4 separate regions of the Homo sapiens genome follow, and all the other regions are linked to region 2. Evidence: fine-mapped expression QTL. A gene starts in region 2. Each other region holds a variant in brackets. All regions are shown on one strand. Distances are from middle to middle.

Region 1 (2,742 bases), 98 kb after region 2:
TCTATTTGCAGGGGTCAGAGGAAAGCCCCCCTACCTGCAGTTTTGGGGCCACATGAACTGCTTTCTTCCAGGCAGCCCGTGGAGTGCAGCTGTGGTCACCCCCTCACCTCCACTGCCACCCAGGTCCAGCCTGCTGCGGCCACTGGTGGTACCAGCAGCTCAGCCAAACTCCCTGGGCCTTTATCTCCACTCCAGGTTGGGAGAGAGCTGTTGAGTAGGAGGCCCTGTGGCCAGGAGGACATACAGACCAGGCTTCAAGGCCTGAGAAGCAAGTGGGAAGCTTTGAACCGCAAGATGACTGAGCGTGGGGACGAGCTCCAGCAGGCTGGACAGCAGGAGCAACTCCTGAGGCAGCTGCAGGTCCACTGGGAAGAGGGACAGGGCACAAGAGGGAGACGGAGGCCTGGCTGGGCTGGACAGAACGGGGAGGGAGAAGTCTGGGTGTTCTGCTGACCCTGGCTCTGCAGCCTCTGGAGGCTTCTGGCCTAGGACAAGCTGAGCGTGGCTTTCCGCTCAGTCGGCCAATGCAGGATTCTCTCCTGTGTGCCCAGCGGGTGGTCAGCACCACTTGAGTCCCCCAGGGAAGAAGAAGCGTGAGGGAACAGGGGAAGATTGGGCACTTCTGGCCGAGGGTTGGCAGTGGTGGGGACAGAGCTCCCTGGTGAATCTGGTCCTAAAAGTCCAACAGTCCCAGAGCCCGGGAAGGCCACTTGCTGTGCTGTACACAGAGAACCTAATGCAGCTCCATGCGTCCCTCCCAGGATGCAAAGGAGCAGCTGGAGCAGCTCGAAGGGGCCCTACAGAGCTCGGAAACAGGGCAGGACCTGCGCTCCAGCCAGAGGCTGCAGAAACGGCACCAACAGCTGGAGAGTGAGAGCCGGACCCTGGCTGCCAAGATGGCTGCCCTCGCCTCCATGGCCCATGGCATGGCCGCCTCCCCGGCCATCCTGGAAGAGACCCAGAAGCACCTCCGGAGGTGGGGTCTGTCCTCCCACCCACCTGTGTGTCACTCCTCCATGTGAATTTAAGGTCCCACAAGATGGCACCCACAGGACCGGGGTGTCCAGACCTCCTCCCTTATGAGTAGAGTCATTCTGGGATGGGAGGGTCGGAGACCCCATTATGCTTCCTTAGCAGGACCCCCACAGTGCAGTCACGCGAGTCATCTAGGCCATGAGGTGGGGCCCTGGCGCCCTTCCACTGCCTCCCTTTGTCAGATGAGGCTTTGCTCTATTCCCTGGTCTTGTTCTTCACGGGCCCTGGCTTGGCCAAGGAAAGAACCAGGAGCCTTGTGCTCACTCTGTTCCCAACCTCTCCAATCTCTTCCTCCTCCTCCTAGGCTGGAGCTTCTGCAGGGGCATCTGGCCATCCGGGGCCTGCAGCTGCAGGCCTCAGTGGAGCTGCACCAGTTCTGCCACCTGAGCAACATGGAGCTCTCTTGGGTAGCCGAGCACATGCCCCATGGCAGCCCCACCAGCTATACCGAGTGCTTGAATGGTGCCCAGAGCCTTCACCGCAAGCACAAGGTAATAGCCCTCTT[C/T]TTCCTACAGGATTACCGACATCCGCTTCCCAGACCTTAGAAACCCTCTGCCCCTACTCAGGTGTCCTGGCCTCTAAGCCCTCACCCCTGGGTATCCCAATTTCCAAATCTCTGCCCCAGCTATTTTGACCCTGGGGGTCTTGCCATGATTGGGGCCTGGAGCCACATCCATGGCTCTGCTCCGGACGCCCCTGGGTTAAGAGCAGCAGCCTCTCAAGCCACTCTGTGGCAGGAGCTCCAGGTGGAGGTAAAAGCTCACCAGGGGCAGGTGCAACGGGTGCTGAGTTCTGGGCGGAGCCTGGCAGCCTCAGGGCACCCCCAAGCCCAACACATCGTGGAGCAGTGCCAGGAGCTGGAAGGCCACTGGGCAGAGCTGGAGAGGGCATGTGAAGCGCGGGCCCAGTGTCTGCAGCAGGCTGTCACTTTCCAGCAGGTAGGATGCAGAGAGGTGGGGTTGGGGGAAGAGGCAGAAGTCAGGGCTCCTTGAGGGGCCACCTGTGGGACTCTCAGGGAGGCGGATCAGTGGTGGGGGCTCTGGGCTGGGAGCTGATGGGTGCCCCTATGGGCACAGAAGCCCCTTTGATGCTGGAGAGCAGGGGCAGATGTCTCCAGGGCTGACGGAGGGTCCTGTCTGAGATCCTCCAGGTGAGTTGGCCCCACTCTTGGCAGTACTTTCTGGATGTGTCAGAGCTGGAGGGCTGGGTGGAGGAGAAGCGGCCGCTGGTGAGCAGTCGGGACTATGGCAGAGACGAGGCAGCCACCCTCAGGCTCATTAACAAGCACCAGGTACCACGTCCTGAGCCTCCCCTGCAGTGTGGTCTGGGTGATGATGGACCACGGGGAGAGGGCTGTCACCCTCCCTCTCTCAGAGGCACGGAGCCCTGCTCTTGCTTCCTGGAGACACAGACAGCCCCATCCCCACTTCCCACCCAGATCCCACAGTGCCCCTTCTTCCAAGGCAACCTGGGCACTGTGATGTACACGCTTTCTCCCTTCATCTTCTTACGAGTCTTGCCTCTCCCTGTGGCCTTGGGGTTTCTCCGCCTCCTCTTGCTTCCTCTCTACCCCACCCCTGGCACCTTTCTCCTCTGTCAAGGTCACCTGCCCAGCCCGCTCCACATCTCCCACAGGTGTCTTCCTCCCAGGCTTTACCTGTCATCCTTTGAGTTAACCAAATGCCCTTCATGAAGCCGACCTCCTCC
Region 2 (2,742 bases):
TAGGCCACATCAGAGTCACCTAGGGCATCTGTTGAGCTCCATCTCTCCTCAATATTTTAACTCAGTAGGTCTGGACTGAAGACCAGGAATCTGCATTTTAACAAGCATCCCAGCTCATAAATGCATATATGCAGGTGGCCCCATGGATCACACTTGAGAAATGCTCTAAAACAACTAAGAAATATTCCTAAGCTACAATCAAGGACACAAAAGGTGATTATTTCCCCCAATCTCAACTTAGATAAGTGAGTATCCTTTTAACCTAGAAAAGAAACAGGCCAGGGGCGGTGGCTCACGCCTATAATCCCAATACTTTGGGAGGCCAAGGCAGGCGGATCATCTGAGGTCAGGAGTTCAAGACCAGCCTTACCAATATGGTGAAACCCCATCTCTACTAAAAATACAAAAATTAGCTGGGCATGGTGGTGAGCGCCTGTAGTCCCAGCTACTCAGGAGGCTGAGACAGGAAAATTGCTTGAACCCGGGAAGCGGAGGTTGCAGTGAGCCGAGATCGTGCCACTGCACTCCAGCCTGGGCGACAGAGCGAGACTCCGTCTCAGAAAACAACAACAACAACAAAAAACAGCTAGGAGGTGACAATGACTCACATGTCAATATGTGGAAATAAAGTTGTAATAATGAGGATAATGTAATAATGAGAGTAATGACTAAATTTTCGGCTTTACAGAAAAACACATAAAGAAAACTAAGGGGAAAAAGCCTTTAGCTGATCCAGAATTTAGTGAGGGCAATGTGGAGAAGTAGGAGAAACGGCTACTCAAATAGATTCCAGTCCACTTCCCCTCAAGATTGTGTCAATTATGCCCGTGAGCCTGGGTCTCTTGGCCTGTAAAACGGAGTCATAACCACCCGCCCCCGGGAAGACAGAACCTGCCTGTCCACTTTCTGAACTTTTCATCCCCAGTATCGACGTCCAGAGGCCTGAATGAGTAAACGTTCCAGGAGATGGAGCAGCCTCCGGAGGCTCGCTTTGGGCAGCTCAGATTTACCCGGAAGCCGATGCCACCTGGCCAGAGGTGAGGCACCGGCAACCAGAAGGGGGCCCTGAGCATGACCGGTCAGTGCCACCCGGCCGGGAAGACACCATCTCCCCGCCCAGTCCTCTAGAATGACTCCGTCATCAATAATTCATTAAGAACCTCCTCTCAATTGGCTGACGCCTTCAGCCCTCTCTGGCAGAGATCCAATCAGGAAGGACCTGAGAGAGCTCGTCTGAATAGTGGGCGAGCGCGCGTGACGTAGCGGCCGAAGACTGGCTGTGGCAGCACAAGGCGGGGCCCTCCTCGGGCGGCGGCCAGCGCGGCCGGGGCGGCTCAGTGCGAGCCGGGGAGAGTCGAACCCGGAGCAGGGTCCCATCCGAGCGTGGACTGGCGGCAGGATGTTCAGCTGGATGGGGCGGCAGGCGGGCGGGCGCGAACGCGCTGGCGGCGCGGACGCGGTGCAGACGGTGACGGGCGGGCTGCGCTCGCTCTACCTGCGCAAGGTGCTGCCGCTGGAGGAGGCGTACCGCTTCCACGAGTTCCACTCGCCTGCGCTGGAGGACGCCGACTTCGAGAACAAGCCCATGATCCTGCTGGTGGGCCAGTACAGCACCGGCAAGACCACCTTCATCAGGTACCGTCACCGCCCCTCGCCCGGCTCCCGCCCCGCTCCGCCCTCCCCACGTGTGCGCCGCAGTCGGCCGCCTCCCGCCGCTGCCCCTCCCGGCCGGCGCGACCTCGGGGACCCCTCCCGGAGCTCGGCGCCCGGTGCCCTCGGCCCCGCCCCGGCTGGCCAGCCCCGCGCGCTGGAGGGTCCCGCGAACCCGCGCCCTGCGCACTCCGAGCCCTCCTTCCTTGCGGTTCGGAAGGCGTTGCTCCCGCTGGCCTCGTCCGGTCGCCCTGGCGGGAGGGTCCAAGGGAGAGAGGGGGCGCGAGCCATAATCAGCATATTCTTGACGAGGGAGTGATGCCTAGGGATGGAAATGGGGGGAGAGGCGTAGGGTATCCGAATGGGACAGAGTCCTAGTTGGAGAGTTTGTTTAACTATTCATTTGTTCAACTATTTCTTGAACAAATGAATGGCAGCAGGAGAGCGTATCGCCCAGGCCCCCTTCCCTTGAGGTCTTTACGTGCCACCCCACAGTGTTGTGGGGAGGGGATAAAGAGGCCGCCTACGTTCAGTTCATGCACCGCCTTTAGCCGCCCGTAGGAAGTGAGCTGCGTGTAGCAGCCGCACCAGCCTGTGGAACTAAGGGGGAGTGTCATATTACTATTTGTTAGTTTCCATTTCTTAGGTGGGTCATTCCCTCCTCGCTTACCCTTGACAACTGAAAATATTTGTCATGCTTACCGTGTTTCTGAAAGCACACAATCACTGTGCATACCCTGTGGTTCAAATCATATAGTTTCAAAAGAAGTGACTTTTGCTGGGAAATTATTTAGACAGAAACAGATTGCTTTGTTGATCACCTGTTTTATTTCTAAAGCAGCCAGCATATTTAGGCTCACTGTTTTTGGTAAGAAGAACTTATTTTTCTGACTTAAGCCGTGTATCAGTTGAAACAAAGTGCTGATCATTTAAGGTTTTGGTCCAGGGTTTTGGAAATTGTAACAATCTCTTCATCATTTGATGTGCAACAGGTGTTGAGAAAACTGCATCTATATTTGGATACATGCCATTTCTGTTAAGTAGCGACCTCTTTTTCTCCACTCCAGTGACCTAAATAGTTCCTACAAATAG
Region 3 (2,742 bases), 83 kb after region 2:
AGTTTACCTAGGGGGACACCCAGGATTGCAGCTCCTCCCACAGGGCTAGTAGTGGCCGGCTGAAGCCAGTTGCCCTTCAGGTCTTATGGAAAGTCTCACTCCTTTTCTTTCTCCATTCAGTACTTACTGATCGATTGCCTGCTGTGTGCCACTCCCCTAGGATACACCAGAAAACAAAGCCAAGATCCTCACTTGAGCAGGGCAAGGGGATCGAGAGTGTGTATTTGGGTGGGAGAAATAGTCCTTAAGTTTCTGTGTTAAATAAAGTGGTCAGGCTAGGCAACATCTGAGTGAAGAGTTAAAGGCAGGGAGGTGAATAGCCATGCAGATACCTGGGAGAATACTTTCAGACAGCAGGCACGGCCCTGCAAAGGCCTGAAGTCCTGTGCTTAGAATCCCATGGAACTATAAGAATCCCATGGGCCTTGGAGCTATGTGATTCCACAGGGTGGAAGATGGAGCCACAGGGGGCTGGGGGCCAGATCCTGCAGGGCTTCTCCCCTTGACTCACCCATCCTCCCTGTCCAAATGGCAGGATGTAGGGCAGAGGAGTCTCAACTTTGGTGTACCTAAGAGCCACCCAAGGTGTTGTTCAAGTGCAAATTCCCAGGCTCTGGCCCAAGACAGTCTGACTGGGTGGAGCCTGGGAGTCTGGATTTATAGCTGGCCCTGTTGGAGCCGGAACAGAAGAAGAGGGCTGAGATTTGGGTGTGAGCCCAGGGACCCAGCCACCCCCTGAAGATCCCAGGACACCCTGGGAGATGGAGGCAGACAGTTGCTATTGTCTGTTGGGCTCACACATTGACTGTTATGACCCCTCATTTCCAAACCCTGCAGCTGAACCACTGATCTTGGCCCAGGTCTACCTGTAGCCCACACACAGGGAGTCCTCCTGCTCTGAGGGCCCAGCCCAGTTCACCAGGTTGGGGCTTCACCCAGGTGGGCTTGAGGCCATGGCTCCAACCAGGCAGGAAGCCTTTGCTTTCCTGGACTTATCCCCTGCCTGCTTCTCCCTGAGGGAACTCCCAGCTGGGGCAGGATAGATTCCAGGATGCTCCCATCCCGCAGCTGGCCCCCTAAGCTTTTGGTGACTGAGTCCTCTCTGGAC[A/G]TGGGCTTCATGGCTTAGCCCATCCAACTGTGCCCACAGGTGCCAGTACCACTCATCGGGCCAGAGAACATCGTGGACGGAGACCAGACACTCATCCTGGGACTCATCTGGGTCATCATTCTGCGTTTCCAGATCTCCCACATCTCCTTGGACAAGGTATGGCTCAGTCCCCAGTACCCAGCACCTGGTGACCCAGCCCAGCCCTGGCCTCACCTCAGACCCCTGGGGATTCATAAGTTCCACACAACTTTTATGATCCCCATAGGAGATCCTGGAAACTGCAAAGTCCATATTCACTCTCCAACCATGGGTGAAGAACCCAGGATACCAGAGATATTGTAACATTGTAATATGCTAAAGTGAGGGCCAGGGCCATGGGCTTCAAACCAGGTCTGGGCAAGTCATTCACTAGTGGGGGGTTCAGGGTCACTGCCCAGCACCCACTTTCACCCCTGTGTGGTGCTCCCCACTTGGCACTGAGGCTCTGTAACTTCCATTACACCACAATGTACTGTTGGGAAAAATGAAATGTGTGGAGGGAGTCCCAGCTCTGGAGGTTTACAAAGTCCCTGGCACCCTACACACCAAAGATACAGCATTTCTTTCATGGTCCCCAGCTTCCTTCATTCCACCTCTTTCCCCCACACTGGATCAGAAAGACTATAAACTCTTTGTGGCACATGCCTGTAGTCCCAGCTCTCGGGAGGGCTCAGGTGGGAAGCTAACCTGAGCCCAGGATGCTGAGGGTGTGATGAGCCGAGATCACACCACTACACTCCAGCCTGGGTCACAGAGTGAGACCGTGTCTCAAAAAAAAAAGAAAGAGTCCTTATAGTTATACTTTTTCATAGTTTCATGATTTCCAAAATGCCACCTAAAACTCAATTCTAGTAGGTAAGGAAAGCCAACCTGGAGAATGAAACCCTCATGAAAAGAAGCCAGAGATCTGGCAGAAGTCCAGGATGGCCTGGAAACTCAGGGCCTGAGCCCCAGGAGAGCAGGGGTCTTGTGTGTCTGCAGGCTGAGCATCTATTTGAAGGCTGAAGGGACGGATGAATTTCTAACTGACCTCAAGCCCTTTCAGGAAGCCATACTCACCTCCTCAGGCCCCTGGCCAGTTTCAGGTGTCCCCTGCAGCCCAGGCCCTTGGGAGCAGCAGGTGGGCATCCTCCCTGACCAGCACCGTCTCTGTCTGTCTGCAGCCCCCTCCAGCCCTGCTCCCTGCTGACTCAGATATGTTTGGGCTCAGGCTAGCCCCGATCCCTCACAAGCCATCCCAGCATTTTCCTTAGTTCCGTCTGCCAGCCTGGCCCCACCATGCAGGGTACTGGGGCCTGACCTCGCTGGGGCCCAGGGCCTCGAGACTCCACTCCCCCTCATGTGGGCACCATGCACGTCCTTCCTACCCAAGCTCTGGGGCCCAGAGGGCAGGGGAAGTGCAGCCTGCTGAGCCTTGATATTTTGAGTTTATAAACAGGAAGTGAGGCTGGGCATGGTGGCTAACACCTGTAATTCCAGCACTTTGGGAGGCCAAGGCAGGCAGATTATTTAAAGTCAGGAGTTTGAGACCAGCCTAGCCAACATAGTGAAACCCCGTTCCAACTAAAATACAAAAAATTAGCTGGGCATAGTGG
Region 4 (2,500 bases), 890 kb after region 2:
TTTAATTCATCTTGGTTTGTTTGTAGGTGCTGACTGCAGTTTTGCTTTTTTTGGACAGTAAGAAATAGATGCCAAATTCAGGGCCAGATAGGGACAGTGGACAATGAGCCCAGTTTTCTAAGACTTACCCTTCACCTACTGTACTGTTTTATTTATTTTTTTGTTTTGAGATGAAGTTTCACTCTTGTCGCCCAGGCTGGAGTGCAGTGGCGTAATCTCGGCTCTGCAACCTTTGCCTCCCACATTCAAGCAATTCTGCCTCAGCTTCCTGAGTAGCTGGGACTATAGGCACCCACCACCATGCCTGGCTAATTTTTTGTATTTTTAGTAGAGACAGGGTTTCACTATGTTGGCCAGGCTGGTTTTGAATTCCTGAGCTCAGATGATACGCCTGCCTCGGCCTCCCAAAGTGCTGAGATTACAGGCGTGAGCCACCATGCCCAGCCTACTTTACTGTTTTAACTTGCAGCCAGTACTGTTGGTAAACCTGATGCCAGCTGATGTAGGCTGTGTATATTGCTGAGGGAAGCAAGAGGAGAGAGTAAGAAGGCAAATCATTGTATTGCCATTGATAAACCAGCTGAGATGAATGGAAGGAGAGTTGAGATTTGAAGAAAGAAGGGAATTAGTGGTTTGGATGATGTTTTCTTTCAGGTATATGTAGTAACTCATGTCAAAGTGGAGCTTTGGAGCCTTTTCTGAGCTCTTGATCTTCCCTTATTTTATCATGACTTCGAGAATGAAGATGGATTTTGCTCAGTTCTCTTAAGTCTCCTGGTTAATTCGTATATTTGCATGCAAGGTAATCATAATTATCAAGTTAGTAAACATTTGATGCTTTTGGGAATTCTTAACTCAGAGAATTTAAAGTCATTTCAGAGTTAGCCACAGATCTTGAAGTTTTGCAGGCAACTTGGCCTATATTCTAGATTTCTGAGACCTA[G/A]ATTCTTAGTTATGTTGATAGCTAACTGATGGTTATGCTGACTTATGCATTTTTCTTTGAACTTCTGAAATAAAATTTTGACATATCCTTTCTGTTTTCTTAATCTACTTCGTTCATTTAATCATATGGTAGTTAACTTCTTTAGGGTTAAAGATATTATTCTTGGCCGGGCGCGGTGGCTCACGTCTGTAATCTCAGCACTTTGGGAGGCCGAGGTGGGTGGATCACAAGGTCAGGAGTTCAAGACCAGCTTGGCCAACATGGTGAAACCCTGTCTCTACTAAAAATACAAAAATTAGCCGGGCATGGTGGCGGCCGCCTGTAATCTCAGCTGCTTGGGAGGCTGAGGCAGAGAATTGCTTGAACCCGGGAGGTGGAGGTTGCAGTGAGCTGAGATCGTGCCACTACACTCCAGCCTGGGTGACAGAGGAAGAATCCATCTCAAAAAAAAAAAAAAAGATGTTATTCTTTTTCTTAATTGTTTTACTTTAGAAAGTTTTCCTTAGGCTGAGTGTATTGGCTCATGCCCATAATCCTAGCAGAAAGGCAGAGACGGGAGGATCGCTGGAATCTAGGAGTTCAAGACCAGTGTGGGCAACATAGTGATACTTCATATCTATAAACAGTAGAAAAATTAGACAGGTGTAGTGGCACATGCCTATAGTCCCAGTTACTTTGGAGGCTGAGGTGGGAGTATTGCTTGAGCCTGGGATGTTGAGGCTGCAGTGAGCTGTGTTCTTGTTACTGCCTCCAGCCTGGGTGACAGAGTAAGATACCATCTCTTCAGAAAAAAACAAAGATTTTCTTGATAGCACTTTAGGTTTGAAACATGAACATTCATGAAGACAAAAACTTAATTTTCTCTCACTCTCTTTCTCAAGTTTTCTTCTATTTTGGATCTGGCTCAAGTGCTATAAAGCTTTAAAGAGACAGGATAGTTTTACGTAGGTTACTGCTTTATAAAATATACTTTCAGCCTTTTGGGTTTTTTTTTTTTTTTTTGCTGTATTCCCTATTGTATTGTTTTTCTTTTGGGAGAGTGGATCAAGGATAAATCAAGTATATTTTATGAATTTTGTTATGAAATAATTCAAAATAATGACTCTTGGACCAATAATGCTCTTTTTTGGAAAAAAAAAAAAATAAAGCAAACAAGGCTGGGCGCGGTGGCTCACGCTTGTAATCCCAGCACTTTGGGAGGCCGAGGTGGGCGGATCAAGAGATCGGGAGATCGAGACCATCCTGGCTAACACGGTGAAACCCCGTCTTTACTAAAAATACAAAAAATTAGCTGGGTGTGGTGGCATACACCTGTAGTCCTAGCTACTCGGGAGGCTGAGACAGCAGAATCGCTTGAACCGGGGAGATGGAGGTTGCAGTGAGCCGAGATTGCACCACTGCACTCCAGCCAGGGTGAGAGAGCGAGACTCCATCTCAAAAAAAGAAAAAGAAAACAAAATAATGACTCTTTAATATGCTACTTATACTGTGTTCTGTGTTCCATATAATTTGGTATTTTGGATTATGTTTTCATTTTATTGTTTATCTTAGGAATGA

The links. PIP is the estimated chance that this variant, and not a neighbour inherited with it, causes the effect. A credible set is the group of variants that fine-mapping cannot tell apart.
Region 1: its variant is the best candidate, but not a certain one, in a credible set for the expression of EHD4 in whole blood (INTERVAL, PIP 0.75).
Region 3: its variant is the best candidate, but not a certain one, in a credible set for the expression of EHD4 in cerebellar hemisphere (GTEx, PIP 0.52).
Region 4: its variant is the best candidate, but not a certain one, in a credible set for the expression of EHD4 in whole blood (INTERVAL, PIP 0.66).

What each region holds. Positions count from the first base shown.
Region 1 is chr15:41,873,076-41,875,817 of GRCh38, reverse strand. SPTBN5 (spectrin beta, non-erythrocytic 5) reads left to right here. Exons shown (of 68, transcript NM_016642.4): 22 at 196-360; 23 at 762-976; 24 at 1,340-1,526; 25 at 1,773-1,973; 26 at 2,210-2,326. Among named protein-coding and RNA genes, the nearest start is that of MIR4310, 7.9 kb to the right of the region's middle. The variant C/T (reference allele first, on the strand shown) is at 1,541.
Region 2 is chr15:41,971,152-41,973,893 of GRCh38, reverse strand. EHD4 (EH domain containing 4) reads left to right here and starts at 1,337. Exons shown (of 6, transcript NM_139265.4): 1 at 1,337-1,635. The coding sequence starts at 1,400. It overlaps PLA2G4E-AS1 (PLA2G4E antisense RNA 1), which reads right to left and starts at 1,131. Exons shown (of 4, transcript NR_120334.1): 1 at 896-1,131; 2 at 1-90. RefSeq lists silencers at 1,286-1,415, 1,456-1,525, 1,626-1,895.
Region 3 is chr15:41,888,611-41,891,352 of GRCh38, reverse strand. It overlaps SPTBN5 (spectrin beta, non-erythrocytic 5), which reads left to right. Exons shown (of 68, transcript NM_016642.4): 4 at 1,148-1,264. Among named protein-coding and RNA genes, the nearest start is that of SPTBN5, 4.1 kb to the left of the region's middle. RefSeq lists an enhancer at 1-584. The variant A/G (reference allele first, on the strand shown) is at 1,109.
Region 4 is chr15:41,076,805-41,079,304 of GRCh38, reverse strand. The region is part of intron 9 of INO80 (INO80 complex ATPase subunit); the gene reads left to right. Among named protein-coding and RNA genes, the nearest start is that of INO80, 38 kb to the left of the region's middle. The variant G/A (reference allele first, on the strand shown) is at 944.